Regions from separate parts of the Homo sapiens genome. Here region 1 is linked to region 2. Evidence: fine-mapped QTL for protein levels in blood plasma. Region 2 holds a variant in brackets. A gene starts in the other region. All regions are shown on their reverse strands.

Region 1 (5,364 bases), not on the chromosome of region 2:
TGAGAATCTAAGCCAGAATTCGGAACCTCGGTAGCTATGAGATCTTGAGCAAGCGTCTTTACCTCTGTGAGCCTCAGGTTTCTCAGCCAAAAAGTGGGAAATTATAACAATACTTTGACGGCCCCACTTAGGAAAAAAAACAGTCCAGGTTTGGAGTTAAATTTTGGGGTCTGACTGGCTGTGGGGTTTGGGGCCAGTGATTTGACATCTCTGAGCAGATTTCAGATCCTGAATCTGTAAAATGGGTTGTTGTGGGGATTTAGTGAGGTGACTGAGCTGGCAGCACTTTGGAAAATGTGAGGCTTTACAAATGAAGCTGGTTTTTAGCACTTCCCTGGAATGGGGGCTCTGAGATGGGGAGGGAAATGGATACTGGAAACCGGCACCCCCCTCAACATTTCCCCTGAACCCAGGCACATGAGTTCTCATTCTGCATCCTATGCACCCACCAAATGGGTTTCTCCAAGCCTGGCACCCCACTCCTTTCCACCTTGCCTGAGGACCTGAGGCCCCTTCCCTCTTCCCACCTTGTTCTAGTTGCAAGCTGCAGAGGATGGCCTGAGTTTCCATTCTTCAGCCTGGAGGCTCTGGCTGTAGCCTCAGTCTTCCAGCTGCAGCCTCAATCTTCTGCCCCAAGAGAATCCGTTGGATGATTTGGGTTGATCTTTGGGAGGCAGGAGAGCTAGTTCCAAGGCCTGTGACCAAAACCTTTCAGTCACTCTCGAGTCCCAGAACCCCATCTTTCTTGAACCAAGCCTGCTCTGGTGCCCAAAGGGAAGGGGTGTCAGTGATGGGGGCCCACAGGAGACTTTTACTGTGGTCCAGTTTTATCTGTTATGCTGCTGGTCTGGCACCCACAGAACTGCCCTGTCCCCCTCCCGTCTCTGGCCTCAGTACTGGCGTTGCCAGTATGAGGAGACAGTGAGAGGAGGGGTGAGGGCTTCGGAGTGAGAGAGGCTGACAGGAGGCGGGGACTCTGGGGGGCTGAGGACTATAAAGCGGCCCAGCCGAGGGCAGGGGCCCATCCGGCCTGAGGCAGGTGCTCGCTTGGTCTAGTGCCCATTTACTCTGGACTCCGGGTAAGTGGGCTCAGCCTGCCTGGGGCTCTGGGGGCCTCCCCCAGGCTGGGGCCTGGGATGGAGAGGAGGTGGTGCTTTGCAGGGCCAGGGGCCTTGGGAGGCCTAAGGTCCTGCTTGGGTCTTGCTTTCTGCATCTGGACAGACCTGTCACGCTAGAAGAGCCGTCTGCTGACTGCACGTGTGTGTGCACACTCGTGTGCATGGCTGTGAACTGGAATGTGTGACTGTGACCTTGTGAGTGACTGGGGTCCCTGTGTGAGTGCCTTTGCTGGTCTGTGCAGGACGACATGGACAGTAGCGTCTTCTCCAGGACCGATATCTGTGTCTCTATCGCAGGGTGGAGGGCCAGACCCACAAGGCCATGGATTTCTGTCCTTGGCTTCCCGAGTTCATTCTGTGTCCCCCACCCTGTGGGTGACCTGGCATGCCCTTATTCCCACTAGCTGCTGCCTCCTGGGAGCCATGAGGCCCTGGATGTCATGAGTCCCGTGTCTCCAGGACTCACATCCCCATTTTCTCTGCTATACTTTTCTAACTTGCGAGGCCCTGGCTTGCTGGGCTGCTCACAGGACAGGCTGTCCGTGCCTTCAGAGCAGTGTCTAGGAGGTGGAGTGGCCAGCTTGGAGTGGCCCTTTGCTCTGCCCCCTTGTCCCCAGGCTTGGAGAAATGGATGATGGGCTAAGGGGCTGGATAGTTGGGCCCTGCTTCCTGGGCACGGGAAAATCTGCAGCCCGGGCTCTCCACCTCCCCTCTGCTTGCTCCTCAGATGGCTGCCGCACGCCTCTGCCTCTCCCTGCTGCTCCTGTCCACCTGCGTGGCTCTGTTACTACAGCCACTGCTGGGTGCCCAGGGAGCCCCACTGGAGCCAGTGTACCCAGGGGACAATGCCACACCAGAGCAGATGGCCCAGTATGCAGCTGATCTCCGTAGATACATCAACATGCTGACCAGGCCTAGGTGTGTGCCACAGTTGGGGAGAGAGATCCCAGCCCCTGGGACCCTGGGCCCACTCCACATTCCTGGCCACACCCTATCCCCAGCCCCAGCCCCAGCCCCTTCCAGGCCTGCTCTTGGGAAAACAGGGCATCTGTGCTCAACAGGCCTAGACCAATGTGCCCTGGGCAAGATGGTGCCTACAGGCAGATATGAAACAGGTGGGCTGGCACCTGGGCACAGTGCTTGCCCCTGCTGCCTCTTCCCTCCCAGGTATGGGAAAAGACACAAAGAGGACACGCTGGCCTTCTCGGAGTGGGGGTCCCCGCATGCTGCTGTCCCCAGGTGAGTTTGACTCCCTGCCCTGTCTGTCCAGCTCCCTGGAGCTGAAATGGGGGTGGTGGGACTGAATCAGGGCTTGGAAAGGTGTAGTGGGGGGTGGAAGAGGGAGAACAGGAGCCCAGGGCCAGCCTGAGGCCTCCTGAGGGCACGAGGCCTACCCCCTACACTGCCATGTTCTGCCCTGTCCTCACAGGGAGCTCAGCCCGCTGGACTTATAATGCCACCTTCTGTCTCCTACGACTCCATGAGCAGCGCCAGCCCAGCTCTCCCCTCTGCACCCTTGGCTCTGGCCAAAGCTTGCTCCCTGCTCCCACACAGGCTCAATAAAGCAAGTCAAAGCCACAGCCTGTCCTGTGTCTCTGTGGACCCCTGGTGGGGGCAGCAGGAAGTGCCAAATGCATGGGAGAGAAAGGGGAGGGCAGGGCAGGGCAGAGGAAAAGGGGATCATCCAGAACGTTGGCGGGGGTCATCAGAGTCACTCAACTCATCCTCTCCCCTTCGCAGAGGGAAAAGTGGTGGCCAGAGGAAGGCAGGGACTCCTCTGAGCAGATGGTCCTTCAGCAAGTCTGTGAAGTGGCAGTCTTGAATCTTCCCAGTTCAGTACCCATAGACCTTCCCGACACAGCCTGATGACAACCCTTCCCCAAGTGCACCCCTCACCAGTGCCTTACTGCAGCCTAGGCAGCAGAAGCACCAAAATTTATACGAAAGCACCCTTGGCATGGGGGCAGGGGCACAGCCCAGCCTGGAAGAACGATTCTGGTGCTATGGCAGTCATGGCTGCATCCAGGGGCCTGAGCTGCCGTCCAGAAATTTGGAGAGAATGGGCTGCCCTGAGAGGTAGTGAAGTCCTGGGCACAGGAGGTATTCAAGCTGCTGTGGAAGGGGAGGAGGCTAGATTAGCTGAGAGTTCCAGCCACCATGAGTTGAATCTGTAGATTGTACACTCCAGCCCTGGGAGGACAAGGACCTGGATCCTGCCCCAGGGAGGACTTCCCAGATTCCCAGAGAACCCATCTTTTCCTGGCCCTTCTCAGGCACCCTGAATAGGTGGGGACAGTGCGCGTGTGCATGCGTGTGTACGCGCATGTGTAAAGGGGAGAAGTGAGGGAACTAGAATGTTTCTGGTTCCTAGAAAGGCTTCTCCTGCCTCCCCCACATGCTTGGTCTCAAGGGATGGGGTTATGGGTTTGGAGGATGAGGGGTCCACTTTCCTGGGCTCAGCACCTTGCACAGAAATGGAAATGACACACAATTGTGTTTCCCCTCAAGTCCTACTCCATCTGGTGTGTGCAAATGACCTGGAAGTAGAAACAGGTCCTAAAAGGCAAAGAGCTTCTAGAGGATGCAGCTGCTTGGCTCAGATTGATTTTTTGTTTGTTTTTGGAGACAGGATCTTGCTCTGTCACCCAGGCTGGAGTACAGTGGCATGATCACAGCTCACCATAGCTTTGACCTCCTGGGCTCAAGCGATCCTCCTGCCTCAGCCTCCCAAACAGCTGGAACTACAGGCACATGCCACCACACCCAGCAAATTTTTTTATTTTTTAGAGACAGGGTCTTGCTATGTTGCCCAGCATGGTCTTAAACTCCTGGGCTCCAGCGATCTGCTCACCTCGGCCTCCCAAAATGCTGGGATTACAGGTGTGAGCCACTGTGCCCAGCCTCAGGTTGATTCTTAAATCCAAAGATGTCTGGATAGAGAGATGGTTTCGCAAAAGAACGGTTTGAGTCTGGGAGAGGGAGCCTGAAGTCCCAGCATTTTCTCTGGCAGCTTAAGGGGATGCGCGGTGAATGGGGAGAGGAGTCTGGGCTGTTTGGTAGAAACTTGAGCCAGGTGGGAGTTGGGGTGTGTCTAGCTGAAGCCCCTTCTTTGAGGTTTCTTCTCTCACCTCTGCTCTCCCTCTGGGTTAGAGCCCCCCACACTGGTGCTGTCTGTGCAGGACTACAGGGGCAATAAGTGTCTTCTCCAGGACCCGTATCTGTGTCTCTACCACGGGGTGGAGGGCCAGACCCACAAGGCCATGTGTGGGTGGAGTGGGGGAAGGTGGATGGGTTGCCAGGGGAGGCAGGGGAGGACCCCCAACAGCTGAGGTCTTTTTCTCTCACAGCAGAAACTACAGGGTCCCACTTCCCGTTCCATGGACTGGTCCCTCCCTGCCCGCAGGCCCACAGAAGTCACTGAAGCAACAAAAATTTGTCTTTATTGTTTTCACTGAGGGGATGAGGAGGGGTCGAGGCCCCTCTCAATACAAAGGGGTTGGTGGGCAGAGAGGCGTCTGGAGGCCAAGGCCCAGCCTGGAGAAAGAAGCCCCCCCCACAGGGGTGCTGTGTCTCCCCGCATGCCCGCCCCCAGGAACTTCCTCTCGCTAGCACCCAAGCTGCCCCCAGCCCCGAGGCCCCTGGCTCGGTGCCCAGCATCCAGGCTGTCCTACCTGGGGCCCCGGGAGGAGGTCGGTGGTCGGGGTTCCGAGGTGTTCAGCCACTGGGGGTTCGTGGTGGTCCATGGTGGGGGTTTCGTGGCTTTTGATGGGGAGGTGTCCGTGGCGTTCGCAGTTTTCTTGTGGTTTTTAGATTTCTTCGGGCTGGGAACAAGTCTTTGCAGTCATGAGGCCGCTCCCCGAGCCCAGCTCAGGCCGCGATGTGCGTGGGGGTGCCTGGTGGCGTCCGTGTCCCCCCCCCGCGCCCCCCCCACCCCCCGCTTTCCTCCCTCCCTCCCTCCCTTCCTCACACCCTCCGCCGGCCCACCTGCTGTTGAAGAGCTTCCCCAAGTACTTCTTGATGGAGCCTAAGTTCAGCCAACTGGCGGCCCTGGGCTGCGGCACTTGCAGCTCCTCGCCGAGGGCGCCCTCGGGCTGCATCAGCAGCGACACGAGGCCCGCTATGGCCAGAGCGAATGCGCAGCGCAGAGCAGGCGTCTGGAGGGGGCGGGGCAGACAGAGCCGCGGGAGGTCACGTGATGCCGGGGCTGTGGTCAGCGCGGCACCCGGACCGGAGCTTGCAGGTGTTC
Region 2 (5,374 bases):
AAAGATTATGTGGAAGTCTTGACTGCCCATTTGACATCTGCAGTCACACACTTGAAGCTAATCTAGTCAGAGGCTCAGAAGCAGGGGTGAGGTTCACACAGTTTGAGTAGGAATTAAAATGGAAACTCAGAATCTGCAAGTGACACGTGATGGAGGAAGAGAGGGGCAAGGAGGTGGGAGCTCAGGGTCTTCCTTGTCTGTAAGTGAGCATCTAGGGGCAGAGCCATGGAATCTAAGCAGAATAAGAGGCACACCGAGGACATGTGTGACAGGGAAGGGGAGTGGGGGTAATGATGAAAAGCAGCAGCTCCACAGACTGGAGGTCTTGGAGTGGGGAAGGATTGCTGGAGAGCATGTCCAGGGATAATGAGCTAGAAGGAGAGGATAGGTTAGAAAACAGATTTTGGAGGTCTCTCCAAAGAGTATGAAAATGTGACAAAATATGGTCTTCTTAAAATTTTGATTTTTGGTGTATCCTTTATAATGTCCAGCCTATCAGAAGAGTAGTAAATGTTTATGATTTATAATTAAATAAATGTGCACATTTGGAGGTGTATCCCTCTCATTGTTAGGGATGTACAATCAGAAATGTGGGGAGACCACTCATTGGGGTGGTTCTTCTTTTGTAGGTGAGGGCAGGGGTGGGAACCCAGGCATGGGCTCTATTACATCAGGTATGGAGATCATGGGGTGGAAGTGCTGGAAGATAATTTTCAGGAAAAGGTAAAATCATGATTCCTACAGATATAAAAATGAACACATGTTAAAGATTTTATTTAACTCATTCAGTGAGGGAACCAGGCAGATGTTAAAACTGGCTCAAAAGAGATTTCAAAGGACCTGTTTATTTATAGAGTTGTAAAATAGCTCAAAGACAGTGGAGACAGCCAGAATCAGAGAACCCAGCAGGTTCTGCTGTAGATAAAAACAGTTTTCTACTGAAACACAGATTGTTTTTCTGTAGAAGGTCAAGCAGTGGCAGCAAGACATAGCACATCATCAAAACCAGAACCTAAAAGGCTGACAGGGAGGTGAGCAGTTGAGACGAAGCAAGTCATGTCTGGGAAAGTGAGGAGGAGACCCAGGAAAGAACATCACCTTGATGGGGGTGGAGACAGGGAGACAAGCCCTGAGATGACAGATGAAGATGAAAAACTTAAAAAGAAAACATTTCTTATCGGAGAGTGGAATAGAGTCATTGTTTTGCATATTTATCTTCCATTTTTATCTTTGTCTAAATTTTGCAAATATTTTTTATTTAAAAATAAGGCTCACATTTATGGAGAGCTTCCAAAGCCAAGGTGCCTGAGTGTGTTGCCCAGTGTCCAGCCGGGAGCATGTGGAGGAGCTGGGATGCTATGGTGATAGACAGACCTCAAAGCCCATCTTGTAACTACTCTGATCTATAATCACATGGGGGAAAAAAGCTTTGTATTTTTAAAAAAACAATGTGCATCCCGCAGCCAGTAATCAGTAGCATTTCTTTTAATAGACACCTGAACTCTCAGCTGACAAAGAATTCACCAGGGCAACATGTACTGACTCATGTACCAGCCCCATCCTGGATCAAGAGGACAGCTGGAGGGACAGTGCCTCCCCAGATGCAGGGGAAGGCCTGGGTCTCAGGCCAGAGTCTTCCCAAAAGGCCATCAGAGAGGCACAATGGGGCCAAAACAGAGAGAGACCTTGGGCCAGTTCCTTGACACATTCTCCTGAGTCCCACCCTCATTTATGCAAACTTCACCAAGAAAGGGATGAATCAACATTGGCGACCTCTTTGGAAAAGGATGTGAGGCAAAACTGCTATTCAGTTTGTGATATCATGAGACTTGGAAGGTAAGAATCACCACATTTGCAGACATTTTGTAAACTGTGTGCATCTCATTGCTAGGAAATTGTAATCAAGCCATCAATAACTATGCTTGGATGATTTTGTGCCCAGCACTGTTCCAGGCATTTAGAAGAGAGGTTGCAACAAGAGAAGCATAAAGTCTGGTGCTGCTGTGACCACCTGTGAGCTTTTGGGAAAGCAAACCCTACCCAGACCACAATTGTCCCCAATATGTCTTGGAAGCTATAGGTGGCAGGCCTCAGGTTTTCTCCTGGCACACAAACCTTTCTCTTGTATCTTCCATGGCCTGTTAAAGCTTTGTAGTAAGAAGGAAGTTCCTACATGCATCCTCGTTTCTATTGCTAGTATAATGCTTTATTATCAACATCAGCTTTTTTTTTTTTTTTTTTTTTTAAAGATGGGGTCTTACTATGTTGCCCAGGCTGAATTCAAAATCCTGGGCTCAAGTGATCCTCCCACCTCAGCCGGTCAATAGCTGGGTCTACAGGCACCAGCCATCATGCCTGGCTACACCAGCTTTTGTTTTCTGAACACATCTATATCTTCAAGACCACCCTGCAACATTCATTTTCACAGTCATTTTAAATTTAGTCTGCATTTTTGTGTCCATCCATCTGTAAGTATTTCCGATTCTCAGTCCTATGCTGAGGGAACACATAGTCTTTGATTCAGTTTGACAAGTACTTATTACACAAGGTGCTTGGAAACCTGTTGGGAGCAGACAGAGGGCTGCACATGTAGGGTAAGACCTGCTTCTAGCATTTGCCAGCCAGAGGCATGGGCACAAAGCAGGTAAATAACAAGGGGCAATTGTTTGTGTTTGACACTCTATAAACCCACTGAGATTAAATGGCTCTCATTTGGTAGCCATCCTAGACGACTGTCAAAGGTAGATCCATAGGAAATGATAGTCTCTGTGAAGTGTGAAGCAGTCGTGTAATACCGTTGGACCCGATGAGAGCTGTGACAAGCAGGAGCCAGGCATGCATTCCCTAAAAGTACCCTGCTACAATTTTTTGAAGAATGCTGTGTCAGCCAAACAAAAGCTAACTGGTTTGCAAAGTAGAACAGGGTGAACAAGCACATTCATCAATGATATTCACTTTCGTTGTCTGATAATGTATAACATAAGTGTATTTATAGTTCTTTACAATTGCAGTCTAGGCAGTAATTGACATACTTGATAAAATAATAAAGAAAGTAACCTACAGAGACTTGTCCAAGGACAACTACTACCATGATCTTAAAGGACATATTAAAGGAA[T/C]GGTACTTTCCTGTAGGGAGGAGGCACTTGTTTGGATATTGAAAGGTTTTGCTGCCAGATAGCTTGGGATAATGAACAGGGACCCTGAGAGCTGAATTATAAAGTGACCCTGGGTATAGGTACAAGCTGGGAATTTGACTTGCCAAGTGCCTTTAATTTAATATAGCCAATAGTTATTTAAAATGGTATTTTAAACTATTAGTATAGGCAGTCACTGTTTCATTCATTAAACGACAGAAAATCAGCCTGTTCAATATAAAAATGATCTAGTCTAGCCTCAAACTCCATGCTGGAATCTGCTCCATAACATTCCTGAAGAAGGGGTCCCAGCTTTTGCTTGAATATCTGCAGGGATGCAGAACTTGCTACCTCTTGAATGACCCATTTTATCATCATCTAGTTACTGATCAGAAGGTTCTTCCTTATATTAAGGTGAAATCTTTATGCTGTTATGCTGTTCTTATGGGGCCAGCATTTAAAGTTACACATTTTGCATACAGCATGGCTCATAAATTCAAGCCTCCTAACTTCATCTGAAGCTCAACCAAAGAAAAAGTGATTTGCTCCCACATCTTCCACATCTTTATGCCTCTTTATGTCTTCTACTTCCAAGTCCGGATACCTATTTCTGCCTATCTGTTAGCATTTGCTGTTTTTTTTTTGCATCAAACATCACATTATTCTGTTTTTCTGAACCAAATTAAATTTGGCTTAGTGGCCCTATTTGCAAGGGTATACCAGATGTCCAAAATCTGTCATTCTTGGAGGGACTGCTCCTTTTAGAGCCACACGAGAGTCCCAAGGGCTTGTCCAGAGCATTCCAGGGGAGTCTCCTATCTTCAGTCTGTTGTGAACGCCCATCAACCATCATACTCACTGCCGGGCCCACATGGTCCATGTACCCATGGATGAACTGTGGGCAGGCAGCTTTACTGTTCTCAGTATCCTGGCTCTCTCAATGGCCAACCGCACCCCCTTTTTCTCTTGCCTCCCTGTGGTAGTTCTGTTGATGAATGCTTTCTGCCTCATCACATTTCCTGGCTTTATTTTTACTTCGTTTTCCCTCCCTCACTTAGGAACCTTTCCTCCCCTCTGAAAGAACTCAAACCAAGTCCACCTCTCCTCCAATAGGACGTCAGTTTGCATTTAATGCACACATAGTGGCTGCCCCCTACAGGAAGAAAAGAGGGGCGCATGCCCAGCGACCCCTGGACACAGTTCCCCCAGCTCCTGGATAGGGTCTGAATCAGGATTCCAAAGTGGGATTGTGACTCTGCAGAAGCCTTAGAAGTGTTTGCAGCTCAGTTCTGAGGTGACTGTCGCAGGCCACTGCCTCTTAAGTGTCTGGCATCTGTGAGTTAAACTCTTCAACAAAAAGAGCATGGATTTCTGTATCCTATTATGTGGTTTCAGCGTTGCCACTTACTAGTATGCCTGGAGCATTGCCTTCCCTAAGCTGGAGGCTTCCCAAATGTAAATGGGGACCATGACAGTTCCACAGGGTACTGTGCAGGTCAAAAGAAATAGCACGCTCAGGGTGCTGTCACAGTGCCTGGCATGCGGCAAGAACTCAATGCAAGTCTGTTTTCCTTCCCTTTCCTGAGCTATTTCCAGCTAAAGAACAGGTCCCTTCAATTGAAATTCCCAGCAAATTGCCGGAACTTACCATCTGCCAGGTGGCAACTTCCTACAGCCAGATGGCTGCCAGCACCACAGCAAATCCAAAGTGTTCATGGACAAGATTCGATTTCACTTTCTTTCCCTGTTCTCTTTTCTCACACTCTATATCTAGAGATTTTACCGTCTAGTAGTAGATCTTTATAAAAATATCTTGTAATAAAGCAGTACAGTACATTTTTATGAAGGAGAGTTGGATTACGTGCCTATCAGAGGGAAAGCTTGGCTGGAGTCATGTTTTTTATAAGGTTAGTTCCTAAAGGTAGGCAGAAGGCAACAATCACATCAAGTCTCATTACCCTTGAAACATCACTTTGGAAGGAGTGATGTTATTTGCCCCTTGGTGTGGGAGCAAATCACTTTTTGTTTGGTCGAGCCTCAGATGAAGTTAGGAGGCTTGCATTTATGGGCCATGCTGTATGCAAAATGTTTGTCTTTAAATGCTGGCCCAATAGAAACAGAGACAGATTGAGAGGATGAAAGATTTAGTTCTCCCACTCATGTGCACTTCAAGGCTTACACTTATCGGTTGGAAAGTTGGTCTTTGCAGAATGTTTAAGGTTATCTTTCTCTTTCTCTTT

Which allele goes with the higher level. Positions count from the first base shown, and alleles are read on the strand shown. Strength reflects both the effect of a copy and how common the allele is.
For the plasma level of the protein whose gene starts at base 1,024 in region 1, C is the low allele of the variant in region 2 and T is the other (strong association).

The links. PIP is the chance, under the fine-mapping model, that this variant and not a neighbour inherited with it causes the effect. Protein levels are from antibody-based Olink assays in UK Biobank. Linkage for the fine-mapping came from a reference panel and not from the study's own genotypes, which makes the PIPs less certain.
Region 1: it holds the start of PPY, and the variant in region 2 is fine-mapped to the plasma level of the PPY protein (UK Biobank, PIP above 0.99).

The regions. Positions count from the first base shown.
Region 1 is chr17:43,938,136-43,943,499 of GRCh38, reverse strand. PPY (pancreatic polypeptide) reads left to right here and starts at 1,024. Exons shown (of 4, transcript NM_002722.5): 1 at 1,024-1,079; 2 at 1,846-2,036; 3 at 2,286-2,357; 4 at 2,548-2,696. The coding sequence starts at 1,846. The coding sequence ends at 2,572. It overlaps LINC01976 (long intergenic non-protein coding RNA 1976), which reads right to left and starts at 5,239. Exons shown (of 2, transcript NR_136406.1): 1 at 5,103-5,239; 2 at 4,538-4,939. RefSeq lists an enhancer at 4,953-5,364.
Region 2 is chr10:48,159,790-48,165,163 of GRCh38, reverse strand. It overlaps FRMPD2 (FERM and PDZ domain containing 2), which reads left to right. Exons shown (of 29, transcript NM_001018071.4): 28 at 1,493-1,836. Among named protein-coding and RNA genes, the nearest start is that of FRMPD2, 110 kb to the left of the region's middle. The variant T/C (reference allele first, on the strand shown) is at 3,117.